Linked DNA regions of Homo sapiens. The protein of the gene in region 1 purifies or fractionates together with the protein of each later gene. This does not show direct contact. Each region holds a gene or a part of one and is shown in the gene's direction. Other genes may lie near its edges. The genes, in order: MAS1, PKP3, DUSP14 and TMEM11.

What was found.
Region 2: the proteins of MAS1 (region 1) and PKP3 purify together in Homo sapiens (affinity purification with mass spectrometry; 2 studies listed by BioGRID and IntAct, with this or other methods). This does not show direct contact.
Region 3: the proteins of MAS1 (region 1) and DUSP14 purify together in Homo sapiens (affinity purification with mass spectrometry; 2 studies listed by BioGRID and IntAct, with this or other methods). This does not show direct contact.
Region 4: the proteins of MAS1 (region 1) and TMEM11 purify together in Homo sapiens (affinity purification with mass spectrometry; 2 studies listed by BioGRID and IntAct, with this or other methods). This does not show direct contact.

What each region holds. Positions count from the first base shown.
Region 1 is NC_000006.12:159,886,206-159,893,992, forward strand, and holds the start of MAS1 (proto-oncogene Mas), read left to right. Parts: upstream 1-4,782; 5' UTR 4,783-4,928; exon of another isoform or gene 4,929-4,978; intron 4,979-7,787. UniProt on the Homo sapiens protein: Receptor for angiotensin 1-7. Acts specifically as a functional antagonist of AGTR1 (angiotensin-2 type 1 receptor), although it up-regulates AGTR1 receptor levels.
Region 2 is NC_000011.10:397,200-404,219, forward strand, and holds part of PKP3 (plakophilin-3), read left to right. Parts: coding exon 1-246; intron 247-339; coding exon 340-463; intron 464-1,792; coding exon 1,793-1,997; intron 1,998-2,767; coding exon 2,768-2,942; intron 2,943-3,134; coding exon 3,135-3,252; intron 3,253-3,335; coding exon 3,336-3,506; intron 3,507-5,878; coding exon 5,879-6,064; intron 6,065-6,418; coding exon 6,419-6,572; intron 6,573-6,743; coding exon 6,744-6,936; intron 6,937-7,020. UniProt on the Homo sapiens protein: A component of desmosome cell-cell junctions which are required for positive regulation of cellular adhesion. Required for the localization of DSG2, DSP and PKP2 to mature desmosome junctions.
Region 3 is NC_000017.11:37,485,214-37,492,903, forward strand, and holds the start of DUSP14 (dual specificity protein phosphatase 14), read left to right. Parts: upstream 1-4,677; 5' UTR 4,678-4,745; intron 4,746-6,319; exon of another isoform or gene 6,320-6,414; intron 6,415-7,690. UniProt on the Homo sapiens protein: Involved in the inactivation of MAP kinases. Dephosphorylates ERK, JNK and p38 MAP-kinases. Plays a negative role in TCR signaling by dephosphorylating MAP3K7 adapter TAB1 leading to its inactivation.
Region 4 is NC_000017.11:21,204,152-21,211,171, reverse strand, and holds part of TMEM11 (transmembrane protein 11, mitochondrial), read left to right. Parts: exon of another isoform or gene 1-236; intron 237-7,020. UniProt on the Homo sapiens protein: Plays a role in mitochondrial morphogenesis.

The sequences.
Region 1 (7,787 bases):
GCTGTGAGTGCCGTGAATGTCATGAAGTCCCTTTTGCTGTGAATTTATTATGAGCACATACTTTTGAACATCTCCCACTCCACAATTATTTCCAAAGTTTTTCAAGAAAAAACTTTCTAGTATGGTGTTCTGGATTTAGAAAAAAGAGAAAAGTGAGATTAAAAAAAGAAGAGGAGAATGAAAATGAGTTTATACTTTACAGCTTTTACGTCCTAGGTATAGGTGGGGATGGTGCACTCTGGTGTCGCTCTCTCCTTGCTCTGACAAGGGAGATAGGGCAAGTTACTTAAACTCTGCAAGCCTCACTTTCCTCATCTGTAAAATGGGGATAAAATATTAAGCACTTAAGAAATGTCCTTGTGACTCCTGGGGGCAAAAAAAAAAAAAAAAAAAAAAAAAGGAATTTTGAGGACTTCCTGTATAGCTCTATTAACCCAGATGGTGCTGAACTGGAGGAGGGACGGACAGGAGTACACACACCTGAAGCGGAGATGAGCTCTCACGTCGGATCGAGCGAGTCATCCACGAAGTGCTCGTACATTTTCACCTGTGACTCAATGCGAACTTTCTCTAGGGATGTCCCTGTGAGCAAGATCATCCGTCCTGAGCAAAGGGCTCTGGCACTGGTTTTCCTCAGGGGCCCTTTTAACAAAGATTCCCAGGGAAAGAGGGGAGAGGAAGGGAGGAAAATTAGTTGGGGTAAAGGTATTTTCCCAAATCGTCAGAGCGTGTGAGCCTCTTCAGGCAGACCCCGATCTCCCCCCGGGGATGGAGTGTGCTCCTCTCCTCTTCCCTCCTTCCCCACCCTGCCCTGGCACCCGGTGCCACCCCTGCCTTCTCCCCATCTTTATTATGTTGGCCCGGGCTGCCTCACAGCATGCTCGGTTTATTTTCTAATTATTTTCTCCTGCTGCAAACTTTAGCCAGCCCTGTAGATATGATATCTGGTGATTCTGGGGGACTCAGAGAGGCATTTATTTATTTTCTTATTTATATGAGCTATATTAGTTGGGAGTTCTCCTTTTGGAACTAGTGAGGTCTAGTTTGTCCACTGCGATGATCTCTGGGGCAGCGGACACCATCCCAGGCTCTCCCGCAGGAGGGAAGCAGCTCCCTGAGCCTCGCCCCGCCCCTCAGTGGAAGAGCTATCCTGGATTAGGGATGCCCGACTCTGGTCACTTCACATCCTCCTCACTGCTCCGCAAAGGCACTTGTGCCAGATGAGAAGTCTCCTTTTGGGCAGATTCCTATGATTGAGGGGAGGCTGGGGGGGCCCTGGGGGCTGGAAGCAAAGCCTCCCACATGCTGAATTCTTATCTGCAGCTGTGCTCTGTTTGGGCCCTTCCCAGGGTGCATCTTGGAGGACTACTTGCACTGTGTCTGGTGGGTTTGCTTCCCCGTTTTCATAGCTATATAGTTTCTGCCCTTTGTAGTACTCTCACTATGCTCCCCCATGTGGACCTGACTAGCTGGAAGAAACCGAGCACGTCGGGGAGAAAATGTCATTTCTCTTTCAGATCTGATGTTTAAGAAATGTATGCTGAGCGTAAAGATTATTACTGGGGACAGACCCAACCAATTCCAGGGCAGGGTTGGCTAGCAGAAGCCTGGAGAAGATTCCCTGAGGCTGATGGGGATCCGATCAGCCTGGGAGAGTTCTGTTCTCAGGGTTTTATCTTGGGCTTTTATCTGGTCAATGAGGTCTGAAGCCTCTTTTGCAGCTCCAGAGGGCAGAGGGCAGACCAGTTCCACTCTGAGACTGTCAGTCAAACAGATGGGATAATCACTCGTCCCTCCGGTCAAGTTTGCAAGTCTAAATTTCTAGCATACCTGAAGTTGTTCTGCTCCTGAATGGTGAACCGAGACAATGTGTCCTAAGCCAGTTGCCTGCCATTCTGTGGACCTTCCGTGTGTTTCCACTTCTTATTCTGGAACCGTCTTCTGTGAAAGTGAGCACTCAGGCACTGACCGTTCCCTCCGTCGGTGCAGCCCAGCCCCCTGCCCTCCTGACTCTCCATCTTTCTAACACGGAGGGGAGTGCTGGGCTTTTGTGAGGCACTTAATGGTTATCTCCCCAGAATATAGGCTCAGCGTCGAGGGCGTAGAAGAGTTCCTTCCAGATAAGGAGCACATCTTAGGATGTGACTTGAATTCTCTAGACTTCCTTGGGTTTAGCGCTGAGTGAAGAGGCACGGAGAGGGTTTGGAGCTTTAGGGTAAAGCACTGATGGAAGAAAGGAATTCTGCCACTTACTGGGGTGCCTACGGGCTCTCCCACTTATGGTCTACGTAGGGATTCTACCACTGTACCCTACTTAAACGGACCTACCACTTGTGCGTACTGCCACTTATGGGTCTGCTGCGTGGCCGTGGGTAAATAAGCTTCCTTCTTCCCTGCTCCCATAAGGCCCTCCACCAGGCCCCCTTCATTATGGTTCTCTGTTGTTTGATGGCAGAAAGAGGGATGTTGTTTCTCTAGGGAACTTTGGAAGGTGTGACTTGGAGGTGGATGCTAGAACTTCCGCCGGAAATTGGAGCTCCAGACCCTCCTCTTCCCCAGGTTCAGTTGCTTTGTTACCCGCTCTTGCTACACCTCCTTCCCCTCAAACTCTGCCCACCTCTGAAGGGGAGAATGATTACTCACAAAGACAAACCAAGCACAGAAATAGCCAACCTATTTGTGGCTTAAATGCAAGCAGTTTTATTTTTACAGTGAGTTGCTGTATTTTCTCTAAGGATAAATCATTATCTACCAAAAATGCGACTCCAGCTCCATCTGTGATAGTTCCTGCTTTGTTAGTGGTGCCAATTAGTCACAAAACAACTGGGGCCTTCCGCCACCCACTCAAGCTGGGGGCAAAGAGAGCCACCTCTTTCTGACTCTCCCGGCCGGCCACCAACCCCTTTGGAGACTCTCTCCCTACCTAGAAGCCATCGGGCCACCCTGGCTTCCTGGCGGCTTGCTCTTCATTCACCTTGGGACCATTATCAATTTCCAAATTGGGCAGCTTGTTGTCCTCTGCCCGTGTGGACAGACTTCTGTTAGGCACTGGAAAAAGCAAATTGGTGAGGACCTCTGTTCTGTTGACTTACATAATGACGTTGGAGTCCTCCTTCTAGTTGGTCACTCTGCGCAGGGTTTCACAGCACCCATGGGGACAGGGTGAAATGTTCATAACATCTGGGCAGCCCCTGATCTGAGAAGCAGCGAATGTGGAGCAGAGAGGATCCCTCTGTCGTATCCCATCTCCTTCATCCCTCATTTCCTTCGGGATCAATTCCTCCCCTGCTGGGATTGGAAGCTTCCTGGGCAGCCTCTTATTTTTCCCTAATCATGTTTTCTTCCGTGGGTCTGATCCTTTCCCACCCGTGCTCCTTCTTTTCTGCCTTGCAGTCTGCTTTAGATGGTGCCTGTTTCCTTTTTAGTTTCTGACCATCCTCTGGGAAACTAAAGTTCTTCAGGAGGCTGAACTTCTCCTTCCTTGGAGCATCAGAACCAGGTAATGAGAACACCTTTCCAACTTCAAGACCGAGTTCACCTGGTCTGTTGATTTGCTGCTCAGCACTGCCTACCCAGTAGATGCCTGCTGGCTTCAGGGGAAGCTCTCTTCTCTCCCCTTTCTTCTTCCCACTGGGAGGGCCGAGCTGCTGGTCAGGCTTCCCACAAGAGTAGTTTGGCTCTGCCCTGGGACTATGGTCTTCCTGCTTACGAAAACAGTCGGAGGGGAACTTCATCTGTGGGTTCCTATGTCTGCTTTCCCACAGAGTCTGAAACTGCCTTCTTACCCCTTTTGATATAGTTGGTCCCCGAGGTTCTTAATACTTTGGCACAATATCTATGAAGGAATCCCTTTAAACAAGAGAAAATGCTACCCTGAGTGAGGGGTGGGTCTTCAGGCTTGGGATCTCAGACTTGGCTACCTGAGATCCAAGAGATCCAGAATTCTCAGCCTTTGGGGCTTCACATTGAGTTATTTGAAAAATGGGTAACATATTGGCCATTTTTGGTTTTTAAAAGGTAGAAAAACAAAAAACCTAACCAAACAACAACAACAACAAAAACACAAAAAATGCAGAACAGGGATCGGGGAAAAGGAATTTGCTCTCATGTTCCTGACTGCACGGGTGAGAGTTGGCATCTAACAGAAACAGCTACTCCCAGGAGGAGCCCCCGGACCAGGCTGGGACGCAGTCTGGGCATGGCCAATGGTGCAGACCCCTGCCTTCACCCCTGAACACACTCCTTGGCTTGCTTGCTTTTCATAGCATCCTACGGGTCTTATATACTACACTGAGCATGATACTCTCCGAAACTGGGTTGGAGAAGGGAACAAATCCTTAACTATCTAGCCATGTGTCTCCCGTATGTCTCTCTGGGTCTATACATAGACTCATCTCATCATTACTAGGTTTTGAGTTAATATTATTAGCTCCATTTTACAGATGAGAAAACCAAGTCTTAGAGAGCTTGGCAGAGGTCACATAACTTATTAGAAACTGAGCTGGGAATTTGAGATGGTTCTGTCTTTCTACTACACATGCGGTTTTGCCCTTCCATGTGGCATTTCTCCACGTCATCTTTCTCTTTAGCCCTGGCTGGCCTTAGTGGTTCAAGGTGATCCACTGCCTTGCATTATCACCAGCTCACACCCCGCTCTGGATTGGCGTGAAGATTTTCACTTGAGTGTGTCACTGAATGATGCCATTGGAAGCTTCTGCTGATAAGCGTGGGACCATCTGCTTGGCACATCTCAAATATTTTCAGCAGTGGGAGAGCAGCTCTGATTCCTTCAGAGATGAGAGGCTGCAGCCATCCTTCGAGATGTTGGGACCGGAGACCCTGCAGGCTGGCTGGGCATTGATGCCCCAGATGTGAAGGGGCAGCCAACCTGTTGGCCACGTCTGACCCTTCCTGAGCAAATGACACCAGTGAGTCTGCGTCCCAGTTTTTCATTGCTTAGCTGTCCTTGACAACCAGAGTAAGATTTTCTCTCTTTAAAAAGCTATTTCTTGGATAACTCTTTTCTGTGCTGGTTTTTCTTTCTTTTATTTTTTTCGGTGTGTTAGATGTTTGCCGTTGGTGTGTGTTGGCAAAAACTTCTCTTTCCTCCTGCCTTTGTTTTGGAAAATTTACTTCTTTGCTGAGTTAACTGTTCCCAGACATTGTTTTTCAACTTCAGGGTTGAAACTTCGCAGTAGCGTTTTCTTTTTTAACTCGTTGCAGGGGAAAGAATCTTAGGATCAATTCACAGTTTGAATGGTGGACTTGGAGGTTTTCAAGGCTGCTTAATGAAAGCTTATGAATGATAAAGAAGTTGAGGTTTGAAAGAGTTGTTACTGAATTTGATTCCTCTGGAGAAATCACTTGGCTATCAGCTCTTTGGCATCACAGGGGCAAGCTGTATTGATTTTTCTTCATTTTTCCTTAGTGGGCACTGGCATCAGTATTAGCTTCTGTTGCTTATGAAGCCGTATGCATTCCTTTGGTGACAAGATGTCTGTTAAAAGGAATCTCCTGCCCAGTCTTGATCTTTGGTATGAGCGTCTTAGCAACACTTCCCAGCCAGGATACTTAGGAGTAATTTGGTGAGAGAATGTATAGTGTGTTGTTAGATTGCTATGGGTGCAGCAGTAAAAAGGTGGTAAGAAGCTGGCCTCTAGCAGAGTGCCACGGCCTCGGCACTACTGGCATTTTGGGCTGGGTAATTCTTTGCCGTGTGGGCTGTCTTGTATATTATAGGATGTTTAGCAGCATCTCTGGCCTCTACCAACTAGATACCAGTAGCACACTCCTCTCCATTGTGACAACCAAAAATATCTTCAGGCATGCCAAACATCCCTTAGGGGACAAAATCACCTTCCCCCCTTTTAGACCAGGGCTCTAAATTGATCCTGTGGTATGTTTGGAAAGGGAGCAAGAAGTCTCTGCTTCTGCGTACAGATGGCCCTAGTGTGGGGAAGACGGGAATGATGCATTTAATACCAGGACAGATGGTCCTGCCCTGTACATTCCCATCGGAGCCCTTGCCTGCCATGGAAATTCCATCTCACAAATGGGTTTCTGTTTGTCCAGGTGACTGCACACACACACAGGGAAGAATTTGCCCTTTTCTCTGGATCTGCACACCTAGAAATCCAGCCTAGGGTCAGGCTGTCTTTTAAGTTGCCTGGGAACAACAGGCGCTTTCAGATGGCCCACTCCCCCAGCCTGAGTTTTATTGGCTTTTCTCTCTTTCCTTTTTTCTCCCTGCCTTTCTCCCCAGCCCCCTCTTTCTTTCTTCTAAGAGTGATGTCCTAGGCTGGGTATCTGGGGCCATGGAAGGACTGTGCTCAACTGAATGGGAATGTGGAAGGGGTTGTTTGCTTCTGAGGTCTCTAGAGAACACTTGAGCAGCATAAATGTATGGCATTTAGAACTCTCTGCTGACTCTGAGTCTCCTTGTTTTTTCTATCAGCTCCACCACCCATCTGTTCCTCTCACTTTCATTGAGAGGTAATTGCAGCCAGCAATCTCAGGTGGACCTGGCAGGACACAGGCTCTGCAAAGCCCACATCCTTACACATCAATGGAAACCACCATGCTTGTTTTCCCTGCTTGTTGATTCATTATCTCAGTTTGGCATTTCCATGAGACTCATATTGGCAAAGTGCTGTTCAATCTCTAGCATTTCTTATACCCCAGCCTTTCAAACTACATTAAAATGCCAGCATGTGAAGCAGTTGAGACCCAGTGGGGTTAATCTGCTTGATGGAGGACTTGCCTCTCATGGTCAGTTTGACTGAAAGTGCAGCTCCCAGGCCAAGCAGCCGTAGGCACAAGCAGAATAGGCTGTGGCCTCTGCACTGTACTTTGATCAATGTCAAAACCCCTCTTCTCAAAAGTCTCTTCTGCATTCAGATGCGATACTGCCCACAATTCTTTGAGTTTTGCAGGAAGGTGGTGGGTGTTAAGTCCTACTTTCCACCATGGTCACCCTGGCTTATGGTGTCTTGTGTGAGGTGCTGGAGCCTGAATAGGCAAGGATCATCCCCATGGGGGCAGCCACGCCGGGGTGAGGGCAGTGGCAGTGGTGACATGGCAGGGGATGTCAGTGCTGGGCAGGGCAGGATATCTGCATGGGGGGTACAGGGAACTGGTGCTGGGTGTTGGAGCTCCTGCAGTGTGAGGTCTGTGTCTCAGGGTAGGGGGCAGGGGGAGCACTGGTCCAACAGGAAGTAAAAGGGCCCAACAAAGTGAGGAGGGCATCTGTGCAGGGGCAGGGGAAGAGCAGTGGCAGACATAGGCAACCATTCATAGGTGGGTTGATCAAATGAGTAAATGCATAGAGGGCCAAGGGAGCCAGGTTTCTCAGAGAAGGGAGTTACAAATATGGAGAGGGAGAAAACTCAAATGAATTCACTGGTGGTGGGTCAAAACTGGAGATATTGGTGTCAATTTATGATTATATGTATATATTTTATAAAGATATAAAAAGACATAGAAATACAGCCATAGGTGTGTGTATGTATGACTATACATAAATGTTATCTATGTACATATATTCCTTAGCCCTGCCACTGAGAGGGGCTGGGAGCAGCGACAGCCTCCATGCAATGAGCACATTTTACACCCAGATCTTGGCTTCTAAATATAATTATTTACTGAAAGGAACCAGGGCTCCTTGGAGAAATGGCTGATTCTAGGCACTAGGGCAGGGGACATACAAGATTATGGTAAAGTGTCCAGTTTTTTGTGTTGGAAGGCTATTAGGCATATTGGAGGAAGTGTGGACCAGCGGGGAAGGTTGG
Region 2 (7,020 bases), on another chromosome or scaffold:
GGCCACTGAGGTTTCCCCGAGCCGGACCATCCGTGCCCCTGCCGTGCGGACCCTGCAGCGATTCCAGAGCAGCCACCGGAGCCGCGGGGTAGGCGGGGCAGTGCCGGGGGCCGTCCTGGAGCCAGTGGCTCGAGCGCCATCTGTGCGCAGCCTCAGCCTCAGCCTGGCTGACTCGGGCCACCTGCCGGACGTGCATGGGTTCAACAGCTACGGTAGCCACCGAACCCTGCAGAGACTCAGCAGCGGGTGAGCGGCTGGGCCCGGCTCAGGGAGGGGGCTTCTACCACGGGCCCAGCCTGAACCCAAAGTTAGCCTGACCCCTGACCCCTGGCTCCGCAGTTTTGATGACATTGACCTGCCCTCAGCAGTCAAGTACCTCATGGCTTCAGACCCCAACCTGCAGGTGCTGGGAGCGGCCTACATCCAGCACAAGTGCTACAGCGATGCAGCCGCCAAGAAGCAGGTGACCACCCCGACCACCCACTCGCTGCCCCCTGGTGACCTCCTTCGTGGGCCCCACCACCTCCCACTGTCCTCTGCTCACTGAGCACCCCTCATGATCCCCAAGCTGACTGGGTAGACCCCACTCTGTCTGGAGCCCCCTCAGCAGAGGAAGAGCAGAAGGATACAATTTGGATACACCAGTATCACCTGCATCACCTCCGTACCCCCACATATACCTCATCACCTCCGTACACCCGCACACACCTGCGTCACCTCCGTACCCCCACATATACCTCATCACCTCCATACCCCCGCACACACCTCCGTCACCTCCGTACCCCCGCACACACCTGCATCACCTCCATACCCCCACACACACCTGCGTCACCTCCGTACCCCCGCACACACCTGCGTCACCTCCGTACCCCCGCACACACCTCCGTCACCTCCGTACCCCCGCACACACCTGTGTCACCTCCCTACCCCCACATATACCTCATCACCTCCGTACACCCGCACATACCTGCGTCACCTCCCTACCCCCACATATACCTCATCACCTCCGTACCCCCGCACACACCTGCGTCACCTCCCTACCCCCACATATACCTCATCACCTCCGTACACCCGCACACACCTGCGTCACCTCCCTACCCCCGCACACACCTGCGTCACCTCCGTACCCCTGCACACACCTCCGTCACCTCCGTACCCCCGCACACACCTGCGTCACCTCCCTACCCCCGCACACACCTGCGTCACCTCCGTACCCCCGCACACACCTGCGTCACCTCCCTACCCCCGCACACACCTGCGTCACCTCCGTACCCCCGCACACACCTCTGTCACCTCCCTACCCCCGCACACACCTGCATCACCTCCGTACCCCCGCACACACCTGCGTCACCTCCGTACCCCCGCACACACCTGCGTCACCTCCCTACCCCCGCACACACCTGCGTCACCTCCCTACCCCCGCACACACCTGCGTCACCTCCCTACCCCCGCACACACCTGCGTCACCTCCCTACCCCCGCACACACCTGCGTCACCTCCGTACCCCCGCACACACCTGCGTCACCTCCCTACCCCCGCACACACCTGCGTCACCTCCGTACCCCCGCACACACCTCCGTCACCTCCGTACCCCCGCACACACCTGCGTCACCTCCGTACCCCCGCACACACCTCCGTCACCTCCCTACCGCCGCACACACCTCCGTCACCTCCCTATACGGCTGCATCCCCTGCATATCTACATCTACGCACCTGGACACAGCTGCACACAGGTGCATAGTCTGCATCCATCCACATGCGTCTGTGCACCCCCATATGCCTGTGCCCGCAGGCCCGCAGCCTTCAGGCCGTGCCTAGGCTGGTGAAGCTCTTCAACCACGCCAACCAGGAAGTGCAGCGCCATGCCACAGGTGCCATGCGCAACCTCATCTACGACAACGCTGACAACAAGCTGGCCCTGGTGGAGGAGAACGGGATCTTCGAGCTGCTGCGGACACTGCGGGAGCAGGATGATGAGCTTCGCAAAAATGTCACAGGTGCTGCCTGTCCCCTCCTCCACCTGTCCTTCCTCCACCTGCGCCCCTCTGCCTATCCCCCCTGCCTTCCTCCCCACCTGCCCCCCTCCACCTGCCCACCATCTGCCCCCCTTCTCCACCTGCCCCCTCTGCCACCTGCCCCCCTACTCCTCCTCCCCCCCTCTGCCTTACCCCCCCACCTGCCCGCCATCTGCCCCACTCCTCCACCTGCCCCCTCCTCCACCTGCCCCCTCTGCCTGTCCCCTACTCCTCCTGTCCTCCCTCTGTGTCCCCCCCACCTGGCCCCCCTCCTCCACCTGCCCCCTCTGCCTATCCCCCACCTGTCCCCCCCTCCACCTGTCCCCCTTTTCTGCCTGTCCCCCTCCTCCTGTCCCTCCTCTGCCTGTCCTCTCTCCTCCGTTCTGACCCCTCCACCTCATTCGGTTCCCCTCCGTCCCTTTGTACCTTTTGCCGGCCGTGTTTCTACTTGGGCCTCCACTGCCCGCCTCTTTCCTGGACCCCCGGCCACCCTGTCCTGTGGTTTTGTCTCCTTGGAGCCGCCTGCACTGCCAGGCCTGCTCACCACCCCACCCCCACATCTTGTCCCCTCTTGCTTGGTCCCAGCTCTATCACCTCAAATGCCACCCCAGGGTCTCCCCAGTGGGGCTCGTGGGTGAGGCACAGAACACCAGGCCAGCCCCTGGGGAGAGGCGGGACCTCTTCACACCATCCCCAGAAACGCGGAGGGGGTTGGAGGGCAGACGCTGATAGCAGCCTCCCCCGTCCTCCAGGGATCCTGTGGAACCTTTCATCCAGCGACCACCTGAAGGACCGCCTGGCCAGAGACACGCTGGAGCAGCTCACAGACCTGGTGTTGAGCCCCCTGTCGGGGGCTGGGGGTCCCCCCCTCATCCAGCAGAACGCCTCGGAGGCAGAGATCTTCTACAACGCCACCGGCTTCCTCAGGTGCGCCAGCCTCGGGCAGCGGGGTGGGGATTGCAGGCGCGGGTCACTGTGGGGACTCCGCCTGGCCTGGCGTTCGCAGCCCACACACCGCACGCCTCGCGCTGGGGATGGGCGTGCGAGGGCCCACGATGGGTTGGGGCAAGGCCCGGGATGCGGGGTCCCTGGGGGGCTCTGATCCACCTCGGTCCCCAGGAACCTCAGCTCAGCCTCTCAGGCCACTCGCCAGAAGATGCGGGAGTGCCACGGGCTGGTGGACGCCCTGGTCACCTCTATCAACCACGCCCTGGACGCGGGCAAATGCGAGGACAAGGTGAGGGGCGCGGTGTGGAGGAGGGGCCGTGCCCCCGGGCCGCCGCTCTGACCCGCGCCCCTGCCCCGCGCCCCCGCCCGCAGAGCGTGGAGAACGCGGTGTGCGTCCTGCGGAACCTGTCCTACCGCCTCTACGACGAGATGCCGCCGTCCGCGCTGCAGCGGCTGGAGGGTCGCGGCCGCAGGGACCTGGCGGGGGCGCCGCCGGGAGAGGTCGTGGGCTGCTTCACGCCGCAGAGCCGGCGGCTGCGCGAGGTGGGCACCAGCCTGAGCGGGGCGTGGGGTGGGTGCTGCGACCCCGGCCCCGCTGACCCCGGCCCCGCTCACCCCCGCCCCGCTCACCCCCGCCCCGCTCACCCCGCCCCGCTCACCCCGGACCCCGCTCACCCCCGCCCCGCTCACCCCCGACCCCGCTCACACCCGCCCCGCTCACCCCCGCCCCGCTCACCCCCGCCCCGCTCACCCCGGACCCCGCTCACCCCCGCCCCGCTCACCCCCGGCCCCGCTCACACCCGCCCCGCTCACCCCCGCCCCGCTCACCCCGGACCCCGCTCACCCCGGACCCCGCTCACACCCGCCCCGCTCACACCCGGCCCCGCTCACCCCCGCCCCGCTCACCCCCGGCCCGCTCACACCCGGCCCCGCTCACACCCGGCCCCGCTCACACCCGCCCCGCTCACCCCCGGCCCCGCTCACACCTGCCCCGCTCACACCCGGCCCCGCTCACACCCGGCCCCGCTCACACCCGGCCCGCTCACACCCGCCCCGCTCACCCCCGGCCCCGCTCACACCCGGCCCCGTTCACACCCGCCCCGCTCACACCCGCCCCGCTCACCCCCGGCCCGCTCACACCCGCCCCGCTCACCCCCGGCCCGCTCACACCCGGCCCCGCTCACACCCGGCCCCGCTCACACCCGCCCCGCTCACCCCCGGCCCCGCTCACACCCGCCCCGCTCACACCCGGCCCCGCTCACACCCGGCCCGCTCACACCCGCCCCGCTCACACCCGCCCCGCTCACACCCGCCCCGCTCACCCCCGGCCCCGCTCACCCCCGGCCCCGTTCACACCCGCCCCGCTCACACCCGCCCCGCTCACCCCCGGCCCGCTCACCCCCGGCCCCGCTCACACCCGGCCCCGCTCACACCCGCCCCGCTCACACCCGGCCCCGCTCACACCCGGCCCCGCTCACACCCGGCCCCGCTCACACCCGCCCCGCTCACCCCCGCCCCGCTCACCCCCGGCCCCGCTCACCCCCGGCCCCGCTCACCCCCGACCCCGCTCACCCCCGACCCCGCTCACCCCCGCCCCGCTCACCCCCGCCCCGCTCACCCCCGACCCCCGGCCCCGCTCACCCCCGACCCCCGGCCCCGCTCACCCCCGGCTCCACTGACCCCGGCCCCGCTCACCCCGGACCCCGCTCACCCCCGACCCCCGGCCCCGCTCACCCCCGGCTCCACTGACCCCGGCCCCGCTCACCCCGGACCCCGCTCACCCCCGACCCCCGGCCCCGCTCACCCCCGACCCCCGGCCCCGCTCACCCCCGGCTCCACTGACCCCGGCCCCGCTCACCCCGGACCCCGCTCACCCCCGACCCCCGGCCCCGCTCACCCCCGGCTCCACTGACCCCGGCCCCGCTCACCCCGGACCCCGCTCACCCCCGACCCCCGGCCCCGCTCACCCCCGGCTCCACTGACCCCGGCCCCGCTCACCCCGACCCCGCTCACCCCAGACCCCCGGCCCCGCTCACCCCCGGCTCCACTGACCCCGGCCCCGCTCACCCCGGACCCCGCTCACCCCCGACCCCCGGCCCCGCTCACCCCCGGCTCCACTGACCCCGGCCCCGCTCACCCCGGACCCCGCTCACCCCCGACCCCCGGCCCCGCTCACCCCCGACCCCCGGCCCCGCTCACCCCCGGCTCCACTGACCCCGGCCCCGCTCACCCCGGACCCCGCTCACCCCCGACCCCCGGCCCCGCTCACCCCCGGCTCCACTGACCCCGGCCCCGCTCACCCCGGACCCCGCTCACCCCCGACCCCCGGCCCCGCTCACCCCCGGCTCCACTGACCCCGGCCCCGCTCACCCCGACCCCGCTCACCCCCGACCCCCGGCCCCGCTCACCCCCGGCCCCGCTCACCCCGACCCCGCTCACCCCCGACCCCCGGCCCCGCTCACCCCCGACCCGCTCACCCCGACCCCGCTCACCCCCGACCCCCGGCCCCGCTCACCCCCGACCCGCTCACCCCGACCCCGCTCACCCCCGCCCCGCTCACCCCTGCCCCGCTCACCCCGGGCCCCGCTCACCCCCGGCCCCGCTCACCCCGACCCCGCTCACCCCCGACCCCCGGCCCCGCTCACCCCCGGCCCCGCTCACCCCCGCCCCGCTCACCCCCGCCCCGCTCACCCCGGGACCCGCTCACCCCGACCCCGCTCACCCCGGACCCCGCTCACCCCCGCCCCGCTCACCCCGGACCCCGCTCACCCCCGACCCCCGGCCCCGCTCACCCCCGCCCCGCTCACCCCGGACCCCGCTCACCCCCGCCCCACTCACACCCGACCCGCTCACCCCGACCCGCTCACCCCGACCCGCTCACCCCGACCCCGCCGACTCCTCCCCGCCCTGCGCAGCTGCCCCTCGCCGCCGATGCGCTCACCTTCGCGGAGGTGTCCAAGGACCCCAAGGGCCTCGAGTGGCTGTGGAGCCCCCAGATCGTGGGGCTGTACAACCGGCTGCTGCAGCGCTGCGAGCTCAACCGGCACACGACGGAGGCGGCCGCCGGGGCGCTGCAGAACATCACGGCAGGCGACCGCAGGGTGGGGCACCCAACCCAGACCCGAGGGGGTCCCAGGGGTTCATGCGGTTGAGGGGGGGACAGAGGAGGGAGAGGGAGGGGAGGAGGAAGGGGACGCCCAGGGTCCGCGGAGCCTCGGAGGTCAGCGTCCCGGTGGCGCAGGCCTTGGGCCTTGGGAGGATGGAAGTCCTGCCCTGGGTTTGAAGGGAGGCACCTGATCCGGGCTGCGGCTGATTCCCCCCGGCTGGGGGGCAAAGGCAGAAGCAGAGGCCCCCCTGAGGGTGGCGAGAGGATGCAGCGACCCCATTGTGGCAGGACCCCCTCAGGTGAGGGTCTGAGGCCTCCGGGTCACGGCTCACACCCTCCCTCCCCACAGTGGGCGGGGGTGCTGAGCCGCCTGGCCCTGGAGCAGGAGCGTATTCTGAACCCCCTGCTAGACCGTGTCAGGACCGCCGACCACCACCAGCTGCGCTCACTGACTGGCCTCATCCGAAACCTGTCTCGGAACGCTAGGAACAAGGACGAGATGTGTGAGTCGGGCAGCCCCTCGTCCCTGCCCTGCTGGACCCACATGTCAATTTTGTCTTTAAGTGTGGGCTTCAGACCACTGGGGCCAGTCCAGCTCCCTGGGGGAGGCAGGGGACCCCAGGTGCCCAGGTGGCCAGGAGTAGGGGTGCAGACTGACCCCCGGCCTCCCACAGCCACGAAGGTGGTGAGCCACCTGATCGAGAAGCTGCCGGGCAGCGTGGGTGAGAAGTCGCCCCCAGCCGAGGTGCTGGTCAACATCATAGCTGTGCTCAACAACCTGGTGGTGGCCAGCCCCATCGCTGCCCGAGACCTGCTGTATTTTGACGGACTCCGAAAGCTCATCTTCATCAAGAAGAAGCGGGACAGGTAGGGGCCGACCCAGCCGTGCAGCAGCCTGGTCAGGGGTCCTCCCAGTCCACCCTGCTTTCTGGCTGTGTGTCCCCTCCTGAC
Region 3 (7,690 bases), on another chromosome or scaffold:
TGTGGTTGGTAATACCTACCTGACTGGGTTGATGAAGATTAAATGAGCCGGGTGTGGTGGCTTACGCCTGTAATCCCAGCACTTTGGGAGTCCAAGGCGGGTGAATCGCCTGAGCTCAGGAGTTTGTTTGTTTTTTTGTTTTTTTGTTATTGAGACGGAGTCTTGCTCTGTCGCCCAGGCTGGAGTGCAGTGGCGCGATGTCTGCTCACTGCAAGCTCCGCCTCCCGGGTTAACGCCATTCTCCTACCTCAGCCTCCTGAATAGCTGGGACTACAGGCGCCCGCCACCACGCCCGGCTTTTTTTTTTTTTTTTTTTGTATTTTTAGTAGAGACGGGGTTTCATGTTAGCCAGGATGGTCTCAATATCCTGACCTCGTGATCCGCCCGCCTCGGCCTCCCAAAGTGCTGGGATTACAGGCGTAAGCCACCGCGCCCGGCCTGAGCTCAGGAGTTTGAGACCACCCTGGGCAACATGGTGAAACCCTGTCTCTACTAAAATACAAAAAATTAGCTGGGCTTGGTGGCGCACGCCTGTGGTCCTAGCTACTCGCACCACAGCACTCCAACTTGGGCTACAGAGTGAGACTCTGTCTCAAAAAAACAAAACAAAAACAACAAAAGATTAAATGTGTTAAGGTATATAACACACCTGGTGCCTCCCTTCCTTTTCTTTTCCCACTGAGCCTTTGACATTTAGTTTCACTGCGGTCAGGTATGAGCAAGTACATGATTTTCCTGTACCACCCAATTCACATCATGCAAAAGTCTCACAGAGAGGGACATGAAGATCTGCAAGAACAAATGTTAAAACAGACAGATGTGCATTTTACAAGGATGTTGTTTATCTTGAAATTCTCATCACTGCATCATTGCTACTGCCCAAGGGTTGAATTAAGGGCAAAACATTTCAGAGACAGATTTGAAATTACCTAATTATCCTAGACATGTTGTAATGTTCCCTTTTATAATGCCTGGCTCAAAAAGCTTGATGTCAGGTTACAGAACTGTATGCATTCTTTGATTGTAATTGTGTTAACAATAGTAAAAAATCTTGCATACAATCAAGACCAGAAAGAAATCCAGATGCTAATTGTTGTTTTGTTAAGTAATAAAATGGTGGTAAGCAATGCTTTTTCTCTTTTTGCTTTTTTTTCTTTTTCTTATCTGTAATGTGACAATTCTTTATTACTTGGAAAGTACATTTTATGAGAACTGTGAAAACTCGGAAAGTAGAAGTTCAAAGTATTTTACATTTAATAACATCTAGCTAATCCTTATGATATCTAGATAAGGTGCTACTTTACATCTTATGAAATAGCACAAGCCTTAGGCAAACTTCTGTAGTAGAAGAAATGTGTTCTGAGACTTCTGAGACTTCTATCTTGCTAGTTTTTAAGATATCTTTTCTCCCAGAAACCTGGTGTCCAGTGTCCCTCTCAAATCTGCCAAAGGACAGTAGCTTAAAGATTTACTTATCTCAGGGGAGTTGCATTTTTATAGCCATCAATGGCATATAATTTGGAATTAGAGGCACAGGCAAGCAGGCCTTCCGAATCTCTGTGAGCCACAAGACCCGATGGCACCCTGAAATCAAACTTCTGTAGACTGGGAGCCTTGTTGACCGCTGTTCCCCAATTCTGACAGATCAAAGCTGTTGCTAATTTGTTAACCAGAGGCAGTGATACAAATGGAAGATGCAACTATTCATTCTGAGGGACGCATAAAAGTCTGATTAATCTAAGGAGCAGTCATTGCCCAAGCAGTTAAGGAGAATATTTTTGGAAAGGCAGACATCAGAAGCTAAGCAGAGTACAAATTTCCACCCTCTACTTACTGTATTAATCATATCAGCTCTCACTCTTCGTAGATGCTGCCCTGCTCGAAAGCACTGGTTATTTAGCTGGGAGTCAGGAGAACCCAAACCCTCCCTGGGCATAGACAAATTGTAATTTTATAGCAGACAGCCTCTAAAATGTTTCTACATCCACAACAGTTGACACTGCCAGGCGCAGTGGCTCATGCCTCTAATCCCAGCACTATGGGAGGCTGAGGTGGGAGGATTGTTTGAGCTTAGGAGTTCGAGACCAGGCTGGGCAACATATTATTTAAAGAGACTAGGTCTCTTTAGTAATAACAAGGCCAGGTGCGGTGGCTCACGTCTATAACCTCAGGGGGCATCACCTGAGGTCGGGAGTTCAAGACCAGCCTGACCAACGTAGAGAAACCCTGTCTCTACTAAAAACACAAAATTAGCCAGGCGTGGTGGTGCGTGCCTGTAATCCCAGCTACTCGGGAGGCTGAGGCAGGAGAATCACTTGAACCCGGGAGGCGGAGGTTGCGCTGGGCCGAGATCGTGCCATTGCACTCCAGCCCAGGCAACAAGAGCGAAACTCCGTCCCCCCCAAAATAATAAAAACTAATTAGCCAGGCGTGGTGGCGTGCCTGTAGTCCCAGCTACTTGGGAAGCTGAAGTGGGAGGACCACCTGAGCCCGGGAAGTGGAGGCTTCAGTGAGCCATGATTGCACCACTGCACTCCATCCTGAAGCCTATCTTAAAAAAAAAAGAAGAAAAAGTGACACCTATAAAAAAACTCACATACTTATAGTCCAGAAATGTGCTGTCCAGTAAGGTAGCCACTAGCCACATGTGGCTATCTAAATTTACTAAAATAAAATTTTAAATTCACTTCCTTAGTTACACTAGCCATATTTCGTGTTCAGTAGCAACATGAGGCTAGTGGCTACTGTACTGGAGAGTGGAGATACAGAACATGTCCATCATCACACAAAGTTCTACTGGACAGTGCTGGTCCAGAAGAGAATAACTTCAAATTGCATTTTTGGTACAGGCATGTATAAGCCCGCACTTCCACATTCTGTAAAGGCATAAACCGCCTCCCTACCCCAGGGCATGTCTGTACAGTCATTAAATGGTCTGACTCCAGCACTTCTTTCTACTTAATCTCTAAATCTCTAAATCTTGACACGCACATCGCACACAACACAAACTCTATTTTAGCCCACCTCCCTCTTCACTGACTCTTCATGGTAGGTTTAGTTCCCATAATCCATGAAAATGCCTAGCTCCTTGTCACTAGAGCTTGTTTTGGAAACCTGCCTACAGTGTAACAAGCTGGAATGTGAAGAGGGATGCATCTATTTGTGTTGCTGAGTCATTGAATTGACTGAAGCTTCAAGGACTAGGGGGTGCTGAGCAGAAATGAAAACACACAATCCTTTCTGTTAGAGATTTGCTCTTTTCGTATTGGCATGTAAACAAGTAAGTCACTAAGTGAACTGACGTCACAATTTAGTTTTAGGAAGATGCTTTTCCCAGGCACGATTTGAACTCAGTGGTTTCCTGAATCTAGCAAAGTATGCTGCTTTGTTTTCTCTTAGATTAATTTTGCCTAATTTTAAAGCTTTGATTCTCTTTTTACGAAGACGAAAATAAATCTCTCTAGTCTGGGCCTTTTTCGTTTCCCAGGATTATGATTAAAATTATCACTAACTTTTAGATAGTCCAGCACGCACCGGATGACTCTGAAGCCGGTTGGGCAGTGGAGATCGGGAAGAACATGAAAAAGCTTCAAAGCTTTTGGTTGAGGACATCGGGAGATGTAAACCCCAAACGCGGGTTTTACTTCTCCCCTCCACCCCTCCCCGCAAACCCATGCCTACTCGTTTTGACTGCTCAGCAATTCTGAGGCCAACCATTTGCAACGGCGAGGAGCAGGGGCTGGTGAGTCAAGGACTGGGCATGGAGTCAGGACTCTTAGGTGCCTTGACTCACGGCAGAGCCTTGAGGAAGTCGCTTTGCCTCCCACGTGTCTCCCTTCACCTGCCAGAGGCGGAGGGGAGGCGGGGCTGTGCTGGAAAACGTCCGTTTCGCACCGACTTATGTTACAGATGGGCAGACCTGAATTTTAAAAGACCCTCAGAGTCACACAGCAAATGAGCCCTCAAATGCCCGTGTCCCGCCTGCGCTCCGGAGAACCCCTGCCCTGCCTCGGGGACTCGGGAGGTGGGTGTGGGCTCCGAGACTCGGACGGCACCTTGGCGTGGCGAGAGCAGGTGGAGATGCGCACGGAGGTTGCATGTTCACCTCCGGGTCTCGGGCGCCACGGCTGCCCGTACCTGTTCCAGCAAGCGTCAGCCAGGAACTGCCGCGCTACTGATTTTCCCTTCGCTCTTGGGTCCCAACCCCCGGGCTCTCCGGGCTAGGGAGGCGGTGGGGTGGGGTCGAGGCCGTCCCGAGCCACCCGCGGCGGCTTCACACCTGTATCGGATTTGCTTTCTCGCCTTTAATCCTCTCCAATCCCGAAAGCACCCCAGCAGAGCGCCCCCGCAGCCCGCCTCGAGCCCGGCTCATACGCAGACGCTGACTGGGGAAGCGAGGGGTCGCCGGTGTGTGAGGCAGGGTAAGAGACCAGGGGACCTGCACGGAGGAGCGCTCTAGGGGAGGCTGCTGCCTCGGGAGCTAGGGCGCGCCCGGACCACACCGCACGGCGCAGAAGCCCAGCGCGCACGCGCGCCGCCTGCCGCCCCGCGCGTCCCCCCGCCCCGCGTCGCGTCCCCCCACCTCGGGAGAGGGCGGCCAGGCGCAGGGAGCGTGCGCGCGGCCCGCCCCGGGCGCGGGCGGAGGGAGGAGGAGGCGGCGCGCGCGGCGCCCAGCCCGCAGAAGCCGGTGGCCGCGCAGGAGGACGGAGCCCTAACCGCAACCCGCTCCGCGCCGCGCCGCGCCGGTAGGGGACCCGCAGGCCCGGGGGTGGGGGTTGTGGGGAAGGTGTTGGGGTGGGGCGGGAGGGCGGGACTTCGCGCTTCGGGTCCCTGGGCGCAGGGGGACCCAGAGGCCCGCGCGACCCCGCCTCTGGAAACTTTGTGCCGGCGCCCCCACCTGCTCCCTGGCGGTCCTTGACTCTTCGGGGCGGCCCGCGGAGGAGAGGCCCGAGACCTTCCGCAGCGCACCCTCGCCGGCCCTGAGCGTGCGCCCCCTGCCGCTCCCCCGCCGCGCCGCGCCGCCCCCGCGACCCTGTCCCTGTGCCCCGGGGCTCCAGCAGCCTCGGCCGCGCCTCCTCCGTCGCCTTCCGACCCCGCTGAGGCCGCCTACTCTCGCTGGCATCCACCCGCTCTGGAGCGCGCCGCCGCTTTTTGCATCTCCCCGAGGTTTCTGGTGCATGGATAGAAGCAACTTGACTTTCAGCGATGCCAAGTGTCCAACTTGAGTCTTTCTCTGCGGTGGTAGATGGGTGTGCGCGGTGCTAACATCTGTCTTTTTATTTCTCCTAAGTACCCTTGCTCCGGAGCGAAGTTGAGTTGTTGTTTGTAAAGAGGGGGTGCGTGCTGTGGCCGCCTTAAGTGGATTGTATAACTGTATTTTATTTAGGTGGATGTTGCCAGTGGTACCAGCCAGTGTTATGGTAACTGGGCATCCCAGAGGCTAGGGAAGGAGGAGCGACTTACAAATGCAGTTTTACCATGCAGAGATTTTTTTTTTTTAAAACCACCTTGTACTTTCTATCCAGCAGGACCTCCGGACATTTAGTGTGTGTTAACTCGTTAGCTGTTCATTATCGTTTTATAAGAGAGGGGGGTGGAGAGCGTTACCATCCCGTTTTACAGATGTAAAAACGGAGGCGAAGAGCAAACTCCGGGTATCCTTAGTAACCTTAAAAGAATAGGGACCAAGAGATTTAACCCAGAGTCTCCTGGAATTCCTAGTCCCTAAGGCCACTCAGAAGTATGATGGAATGTTGGACCGTCCTCCCTGACATTCTACAGATCACTTAAGAGTCAGAGAGGCCGAGGCCAGCCGGCAGCTCCATGCCTGAGACTCAGCTCTGCCACAAAGTTAAGTAACACTGGACAAGTCACAGTTTCTCTCCGCTCATTTCCTTCCTGCTCTCTAAAACCAGGGGAACAAAGGTGCTGTATTCTTTGCAGAGTTGTGCGTGTGTCTGGAAGCTCCACTCCCTTGAGCTGCGATTTGGTTATTGTTAGTTGTTGTGGACTCATAAAGGCCCCCAGTCTTGGTTCCCTTGAGAAATGCAGGGAAGGAGGCACCCCCACAGTGAACGCCTCTTCTTCGCCAGAGACGCCTGAGAATTCACATCAGGGACACTTCACATCAGGGACAGGCCGGGGCAGAGACCCTGACCTGAGGGAGGGACGAGGGTTGCCACGAGGAGGTAGGAAGGAGCCCTGCACAGGAGGCTTGACACATGGGCCCTATTCCTGCCTCCAGCTCTGACTCATCTTCTGACGCTTGGGGGAGGAGAGGTAGTTGCTTGGTATTTTTGGCTTTCCACCATAAAACTGGAGACAGTTTCCTTCATTCCAAGTCGTTTTAATGTCACTGTTGAACGTGTGTGTCCTGAGTTCTCATCTGAAAGCTTTCATATCGGTTGACTGCAGGTATGAATTCTGTAATAATAATTAATAGAATGGCATAAATGTATATTCATATCATAAAAGACTAGCCAAGTATGTAAGTCCAGGAAATCCTTTAATACTTTAACATTTTTAAAAAGTGGGCTTTAGGGAGGGCTATGTTTGATGGGTTCCTTTGCAATTGGGATTTTAAGGCAAAATGGATTAAAAATGCTTTTCCCAAAATCACAAGAAATACATTAACCATTCTCTGTGAGATTTAAACTTTACTAATAAGGTTAAAGCTTTCTTTTGAACCTCTTCCTCAAAAGTAACTGCCGAGTGCATCTTGATCGGTTTGTGTATATCTTTTTAGACTTTTCTAAGCATTTTTATAAATGTCCGTTTGCACAAAGTGGTTTTTTAACCGAAATTAATTATTTTAAAGTTGACTTGTCCTGTTTATAAAGATTTGGCTTCTGTCAAGAACAAGTAATGTGTTTAAGTACAACTGTTGGTAAAGTTTTAATAATCCTGATAGACGGTGTTACTTCCCAGGGCAAGGGGCAAATTACCCCTTTTAAACAACTTCAAAGTAGTAGAATCATTACGATCCTAGGTTTTACTCTTAGGTGCTGAATAAAACTTTCCTATTTAAAAAAAAAATCTAGGACTACTAGCCTATTGTCTTGTCTTTGCTTATAAAGAAACGTCAAAGGGAGTGGAAGACAGGGAGAGTTGCTAAAGCAACCAAGGCCTGGGTATAAACTTACAGAGCTAACATTTAAGATGGCTTTATTATTTATGAAAGCTTCACTTCACCTGGGTGAAGACAAAGGAAAGTGTTAATGTGGGCACCCTTCAAACCGGTAATTTCAGGAAATGGATGGGTTAAAACAAAATTCATGTCAGGATTCTGTGGATTTATATATTATACATTTACCGAGGACTTTTACCATGCTAAAGGTGCTGTGCCTGAATACAGAGGAAGAAGGCAAGTAAGGTCGGTCTCTGACCTTATGAAGCTGACAGGCAAATAGTGACATTCAGAGAGAGTTGGCCAGAATTGTTGTCATGGTTCTGAATTCCCAGAAATCAACATTAGATTTATTGAATTGTGAATTATGTAAAAAAGTGTCTAAAACAAATGGATAATTTGATGGATTATTTTAACGAAAACATAAGTGTAACTGTCTTGCAGGTCAAGAATCTGACTCCACACTCTCTCCCTCCCCCAGAGGTCCTAGCCAGAAACTACCCTGACTTTTATGGAAATCATTTCCTTCTTTTCTATAGTTTTTATCCCCTAAATATAAATCCC
Region 4 (7,020 bases), on another chromosome or scaffold:
TTGTCCAAAATTCAGCACACTGGCAACGAGCACATCAAACAGATTGCCACTTGTCCTGTCGGCGTCTTTGAGACACACTTGCCCATCTAGGAAAGCACAGTGCAGGTATCTGTGTTCTGCCACCGTGTGCCAGCCCGGACCAGCTCACAGACAGCCCTGCCTGTCTTACTTGGGCTGCTCGGCTTCACTGTCTCAGGGCCCCTGAACCTCCCAGAGCCCTCCGTGATTGTTGGAATGTGAGTATAGCTGTGTGCTCTTGAGTTCCTGTTTTTATAATCACGTGAAGATGTACTTGATCTGCTTCTGAGCATGATATGAGGCAACCTGGGGTGTGCAGAGGGCCAGATGCACGGGGCTAAAAGTTCAGGTTTAGCGCGAAGTTATTTGTTGTGGCCTGCCCCTCCCCTGGCTTGCGCGGCCATCTGCTCCAGCGTTTTATAGGCAGCCAGTTCCCTGGGCTGACTTTCATGGCTTTCCTTGCCATGCTTTATTCCCCAGGACCTGTCCTCTTCTTTGTGAACTCAGGTGTGCCTGGTCCCAGGTGGCCCTTACACGTTCATCCAGTGAGCAGATGGAGCACAGGCCCCGGGGGCAGGTTGGGTCATGGTCCCGGGGTGACAGCTTCCCTTTCTGATCTGATCCTTCCCTTTTAGACTCTCAGGCTTTGGGAGTATTTAATCTCTCTTGAAAGACTCCATGCTTGCTTTTGTGTGTGGCGGGAGTTTTTGTTTCCTTCTGGCTGGGATGAGATGAGCAGATACGGGATCTGCACCCAAGTGTGTGGGGGTTTAGCCACTGGTTGTGGGATTCTGCTCAGCTCTTTAACAAAGGCAAAGCCACATGTTCTGGCCGCAGAAGTTGGATTCGTAGGTAAGGATGGGGTTCATCCTCTTCAGTATTGATGTGCCTTCAAGTTTTCAAGAATTTCTGTTTTCCTTGGTTCACTCAAGCAGCCTGGATTCCAAGTGCATTAATTTGTGTCTCAGTGGTTCAGTCCTTTAGGTCATGTTCCAGGGAAGGCTCCCCTTTCTGAAGAGGGGAGGGCTGCGCCTGGGTCCACGGAGGTGGGGAGGTGGCTCCTCTGCCCCGGCTTGTCGGTGTGCACCTGTTCTTCAATGAGCGAGGTGCGGGGGGTGGAGTTGGGCAGCACTCCATGACCGAGCACACCCGGGAACCTCCTGACTGCCACGGTGTTCCGCCCTGGTGCCAGCAGCCACTTTATGGGCACAGTTCTCAGGAAAAGCTGACAGCCATGTAGTAGTCATAACAGTTCTTCAGAGCAGGGCTGTCCAGTAGGAGTTTCTGGCATGACAGACTCCTGGCGTGTCCCTGCAGTCCATTAGGGCAGCCATTAGCCACGTGTGGCTCTGAGGAACTGAGGTTTCATTTATTTATTTATTTTATGAGACAGGTCTGGCTCTGTCACCCAGGCTGGAGTGCAGTGGTATGATCTCGGATCTCTGCAACCTCCGTCTCCCTGGCTCAAACCATTCTCCCACCCCAGCCTCCCGAGTAGCTGGGACCACAGGCATGTACCACCACGCCCAGCTCATTTTTGTATTTTTTGTAGAGGCAGAGTTTTCACCATGTTGTCTAGGCTGGTCTTAAAATTTGTGGGCTCAAGGAATCCACCCGCCCTGGCCTCCCAAAGTGCTGGGATTACAGGCGTGAGCCACTGTGCCCGGCCAGGAACTGAATTTTTTAAGATGTCTAATTTTAATTAATTTAAATTTCAACAGCCACATGTGTCTTAGGCAGAGGGGCAGTGCTTGGCGACTGTTCCCATCTTCACTGCAGTCCTCTGGGAGAGCCAGGGCCTCTGGCCCCGTTTGACAACATGGGAAACTGGCTCAGAGGGGCCGGGTGTTTTGCCCTAGGACACAAAGCCAGTAGGCAGCCGAGAGGGAACTTGAATCCACCCTCTCGACTCCCACACTTGGTGCGCCGTGTTCCTGCTCCCCAGATAGAAGGGCTGCTGAGTTACCAGTGCGCAGAATAGGAAAGTGTCCTCTGAAGCAGACGAAAGGGCTGGGTGTCCTGTGAAAGTTCCTTGGCCTGTGGGAGCCGTCCTCAGGCCATGGGGCCGCATGCCCGTGCCTTTGAGTCTGGGGCACGGGCTTTCACTGCTTCAGTCCTCTGCTTTCTGTGGGTCCCAAAGAAGCAGGGCTTAATTAGGCAGAAGCGGGTGGAGGTCCAGCCCAGCACCTCCTGTATCATAGGTGATCAAGTGACCCTTTCACTAAGTGAAAAGCAGCCTGACGGATGGGTTGACTTTTCTGGTACCAGTTCTCTTAATAACCATAATTGTTTTTCTCCTCCTGTGACTCCTGTGGCTCATGTCTGTAATCATTACAAATGTCCCTCCAACCTGTGTCTTTTGGGAACCTGTTACATTCAGGCCCAGTGCTGGGGAAACTACGATGAAAATGCAGCCTCTGCCCTCATGGAGCTTCAGGCCTGCCTGTGAGCCCGGGCCCCACTCCAAGAAGGGGCCTAATGTGGATGCTTCCACTCAGATTTGCCTCTGCTGGGTCTCTCAGAACTGGGAAGGTGATTGGTGGCTGGCCTGGCAGCTTAGCCAGTGTTTGCTCAAGGGAAACGGAGCTGGAACTGCCCTCCTCTTTTTGGGCAGGACTACAGGTACACACCAGCATGACACCTCAGCCATGAGAAGCTGCCCGCGTCCAGACTTCTGCCTTTCATGGACACCGAGAAGGTTCTGGAGCAGGAAGTGAGCCACCTCCCGCTCTTCTTGGCAGTGGAAGGAGGCCCTCCCACGGGTATCTGGTCCCTTTACCTCAAGGGATATAGGGTTGAACAGAATTTTTCTTTTTAAGAATAAGTTTATAATTATTTTTCCTGTTATAAAAGAAACACTTTGGCCGGGCGCAGTGGCTCATGCCTGTAATCCCAACACTTTGGGAGGCCGAGGTGGGCGGATCACGAGGTCAGGAGATTGAGACCATCCTCGCTAACACAGTGAAACCCCGTCTCTACTAAAAATACAAAAAATTAGCCGGGCGTGGTGGCGATTGCCTGTAGTCCCAGCTACTCTGGAGGCTGAGGCAGGAGAATGGCGTGAACCCAGGAGGCGGAGCTTGCAGTGAGCCAAGATCACGCCACTGCACTTGAGCCTGGGCGACAGAGCGAGACTCCGTCTCAAAAAAAAAAAAAAGAAACACTTTTTTTTAAAAAATATAGAAAAGCATGAAGAAATTGACAAGTCACCTATTAGGCCACCATCCAAAGAAAACCACTGTTGATCTATTTTCTTGTTTCTTTTGAGACAATGTCTCGCTCTTGTCCCCCTGGCTGGAGTGCAGTGGTGTGATCTTGGCTCACTGCAACCTCTACCTCCTAGGTTCAAGCGATTCTCCTGCCTCAGCCTCCTGAGTAGCTGGGATTACAGGCGCCTGTCACCACACCTGGCTAATTTTTGTATTTTTAGTAGAGACGGGGTTTCACCATGTTGGCCAGGCTGGTCTGAAACTCCTGACCTTAGGTAATCCGCCCGCCTCGGCCTCCCAAAGTGCTGGGATTACAGGCGTGAGCCACCGCGCCTAGCCTGATCTATTTTCATGTATAGCACCTTTGATACTTTGTCTTATATATCTTGCCTTAGGGGTTTTTAAAATTATATTATTGAGACGGACTCTCACTTTGTCACCCAGGCTGGAATGCAGTGGTGCAGTCTCGGTTTACTGCAGCTTCTGCCTCCGGGGTTCAAGCGATTCTCCTGCCTCAGTCTCAAGTAGCTGGGACCACAGGCATGCACCACCACGCCCAGCTAATTTTTGTATTTTTAGTAGGGACACAGTTTCACCACATTGGCCAGCCTGGTCTTGAAGTCCTGACCTCAGGTGATCTGCCCACCTCAGCCTCCCAAAGTGCTGGGATTACAGGCGTGAGCCACCATGCCCAGCCTTATCTTAGATTTTTTAAAGTTATATGTTAAACACATCAAAAGTTATGTTTACAATATGTGAAAAGTAATAAACATGCCACAGCATGATGGCCCTTAAAAACATAATGCAAAATGAAAGAAGCCAGTTGTTGAAGACCACGTTACAGGATTCCATTTAAATGAAATACCCAGAATTGGCATATCCAGAGAGTTGGGAAGCCGACTGGTGGTTGTGGAGGGCTGGGGAGATGTGAAGGGACCACTAATTGGTACAGGGTTTCTTTCTGAGATGATGAAAATGCACCAGGATCAGTTGTGCTATTGGTTGCACAACTTTGGGAAAGCCACTTCATCGTTCACCTCCGATGGGGGAGTTGCTCTGTGAATTCTATCTCAGTAAAGCTGTGAATTCTATCTCAGTAAAGCTGCCATTAAAAAATACAAATCAGGCCAGGCATGGTGGCTCATGCCTGTAATTCCAGCATTTTGGGATCACCTGAGATCAGGAGTTCGAGACTAGCCTGGCCAACATAGAGAAACTCTGTCTCTACTAAAAATACAAAGTTAGCTGGGCGTTGTGGCACGTGCCTGTAATCCCAGCTGCTTGGGAGGCTGAGGCAAGAGAATTGCTTGAACCCAGGAGGTGGAGGTTGCAGTGCTCCGAGATTGTGCCACTGCACTGCAGTCTGGGTGACAAGAGTGAAACTCCGTCTCCACAAAATAAATAAACAAATAAAAATAAAGAAAATGAGACCAGGTACAATGGCTCTTACTTGTAATCCCAGTGCTTTGGGAAGCTGAGGCTGGCAGATCACTTAGGAGTTCGAGACCAGCCTGGCCACCATGGTGAAAACCCTGTCTCTACTAAAAATACAAAAATTAGCTGGGCGTGGCAGCACATGTCTGTAGTCCTAGCTATTTGGGAGGCTGAGGCAGGAGACTCGCTTAAGCCCGGGAGGCGGAGGTTGCAGTGAGTCGAGATAGCGCCATTGCGCTCCAGCCTGGGCAATGGAGCGAGACTGCCTCAAAAGAAAAGAAAACGGAAAATAACAAGTGTTGGTGAGGATATGGAGAAATGGGAACCCCTGTGCGCTGCTGGTGGGAATGTACAATGGTGCAGCTGCTCTGGAAAACAGTATAGAGATTCCTCAAAAAAACTAAAAAATTGAACTGCTATATGATCCAGCAGTTCCACTTCTGGGTATATATACCCCCCCCCCAAAAAAAGCAGGGACTCAAAGAGATGTTTGTGCACCCATGTTCATAGCAGCATTATTCACAATAGCCAGTGGTGGAAACCGAAGTGTCCATCACAGATGAATGGATTAACAAAATGTGGTTTATGCATACGGTGGAACATTACTGAGCCTTAAAAAGGAAGAAAATTCGGATACATGCTACAATATGGATGAACCTTGAAGACTCGTTATGCTCTGTGGAATAAGCCAGACACAAAAGGGCATATACTATATATGATCCAACTTGTATGAAGTACTTGTATAGTCAGATTCATTGGGGTAGAAAGTAGAATGGTAGTTTGCAGGGGCTTGGGGTTGGTGGGGAATGGGGGGATCATTTCATGGGTAGAGTTTCAGTTTGGGAAGGTAAAGGAATCCTGGAGGTGGATGGTGGTGATGGTTGGTACATCAGTGTGCATGTGCTTAGTGCCTCTGAACTGTACACTTAAAAGTGCTTACGGTGGTATATTTTACGTGTATTTTACCACACTTTAAAAAAGGCAAAGTGATAGTTGTGTGGGCTCCCCACCCAGCGCGATAGAGAACTAGCGTTACCCTGGCCTGCCTCCTCCTGCAGCGGAGACCCTGTGCCCCAAGTGCACCACAGCACCCTTGCTGTCCTTATAGTTGGCTTTCAGTGGCACGTCCCTGAGCTCTGCCGCCTTAGAATGTGTGAGAGTTGTATCCCTGGCTCAGGCCACTGGAACTGATTCATGTCACTAATGGAGGAGGTGCGATTCTGCTCTCCCCGCTCCTGTCATCTTTTGCTCTCACCGAACAGTTCTGCTCTGAACCTTCTTGTGCGGCTCTTGCCTTTTGGGGAGACGCCTCCAGACTGTGGCTGCTGGGACAGGCACAGGCTGCCCACATCCCAGAGGGGCCGTGGAGTTGCCCTGCTGAGTTTTCACTGTGGCCGCCTTTTAACTGGAATGCTAGTGTTGCCAGGGGATTCCTTTGCTGACTGCGAGAGCTGATTGAGTTGGGCTCAAAAGTGGAGAGATGAGGGCCTGAAGGCTGACTCTGGTTGAAGGCTGAGGGAGGAAGTTCAAGATGCCCACTTTATGAGTGCCTGCAAGCTATCCTGAGGCGGCAGAGAGCGGTCCCATTCAGTGTCTGCAGCAGTCCCCCTGAGGTGCTGGAACGGGCTGACCCCTGCTCCCAGCACTAAAGGCTCAGAGAATCCAAAGCTTCCTCAGTGCTGGCATGATGTGTTTAGGATCATGACACTGATCCTTTTACTTTTCTTCTTCCATATGTTAAGACCCACTTCCGACAGTGATCTTTAAGTACCAGAGATCATGCCAGATTCAAAAGGATCAAAAGTCATTTACTAGAAAGAGCCTCCCTTCCTTTTCTTTCCTGAGCCCCTCAGTTCCCTCCCTAGTGACCAGTCATAAAAATCAGGTCTTTGTGTATCCTTTCAGAAGTGTTCTGTGCATATAAAAGCAAATAGAGACTTTTAAAAATACACTACGTATAGCATACTGTAAACACTCTTCTGAACCCTGCCTTTTCCCCTGAACTTGCTTTCAGTTGGAGACTTTGCTGTTACTGCTGCTACCTTTTTCTCTTTTTTTTTTTTTTTTTTTTTTTTATTGAGACGGAGTTTTACTTGTTGCCCACGCTGGAGTGCAATGGCATGATCTCAGCTCACTGCAACCTCCGCCTCCTGCGTTCAAGCAATTCTTCTGCCTCAGGCTCCCAAGTAGCTGGGATTACAGGCACGTGCCACCAAACCCAGCTAATTTTTGTATTTGTAGCAGAGACAGGGTTTCACCGTGTTAGCCAGGCTGGTCTCGAACTCCTGATCTCAGGTGATCCGCCTGCCTTGGCCTCCCAAAGTGCTGGGATTACAGGCATGAGCCACTGCACCTGGCC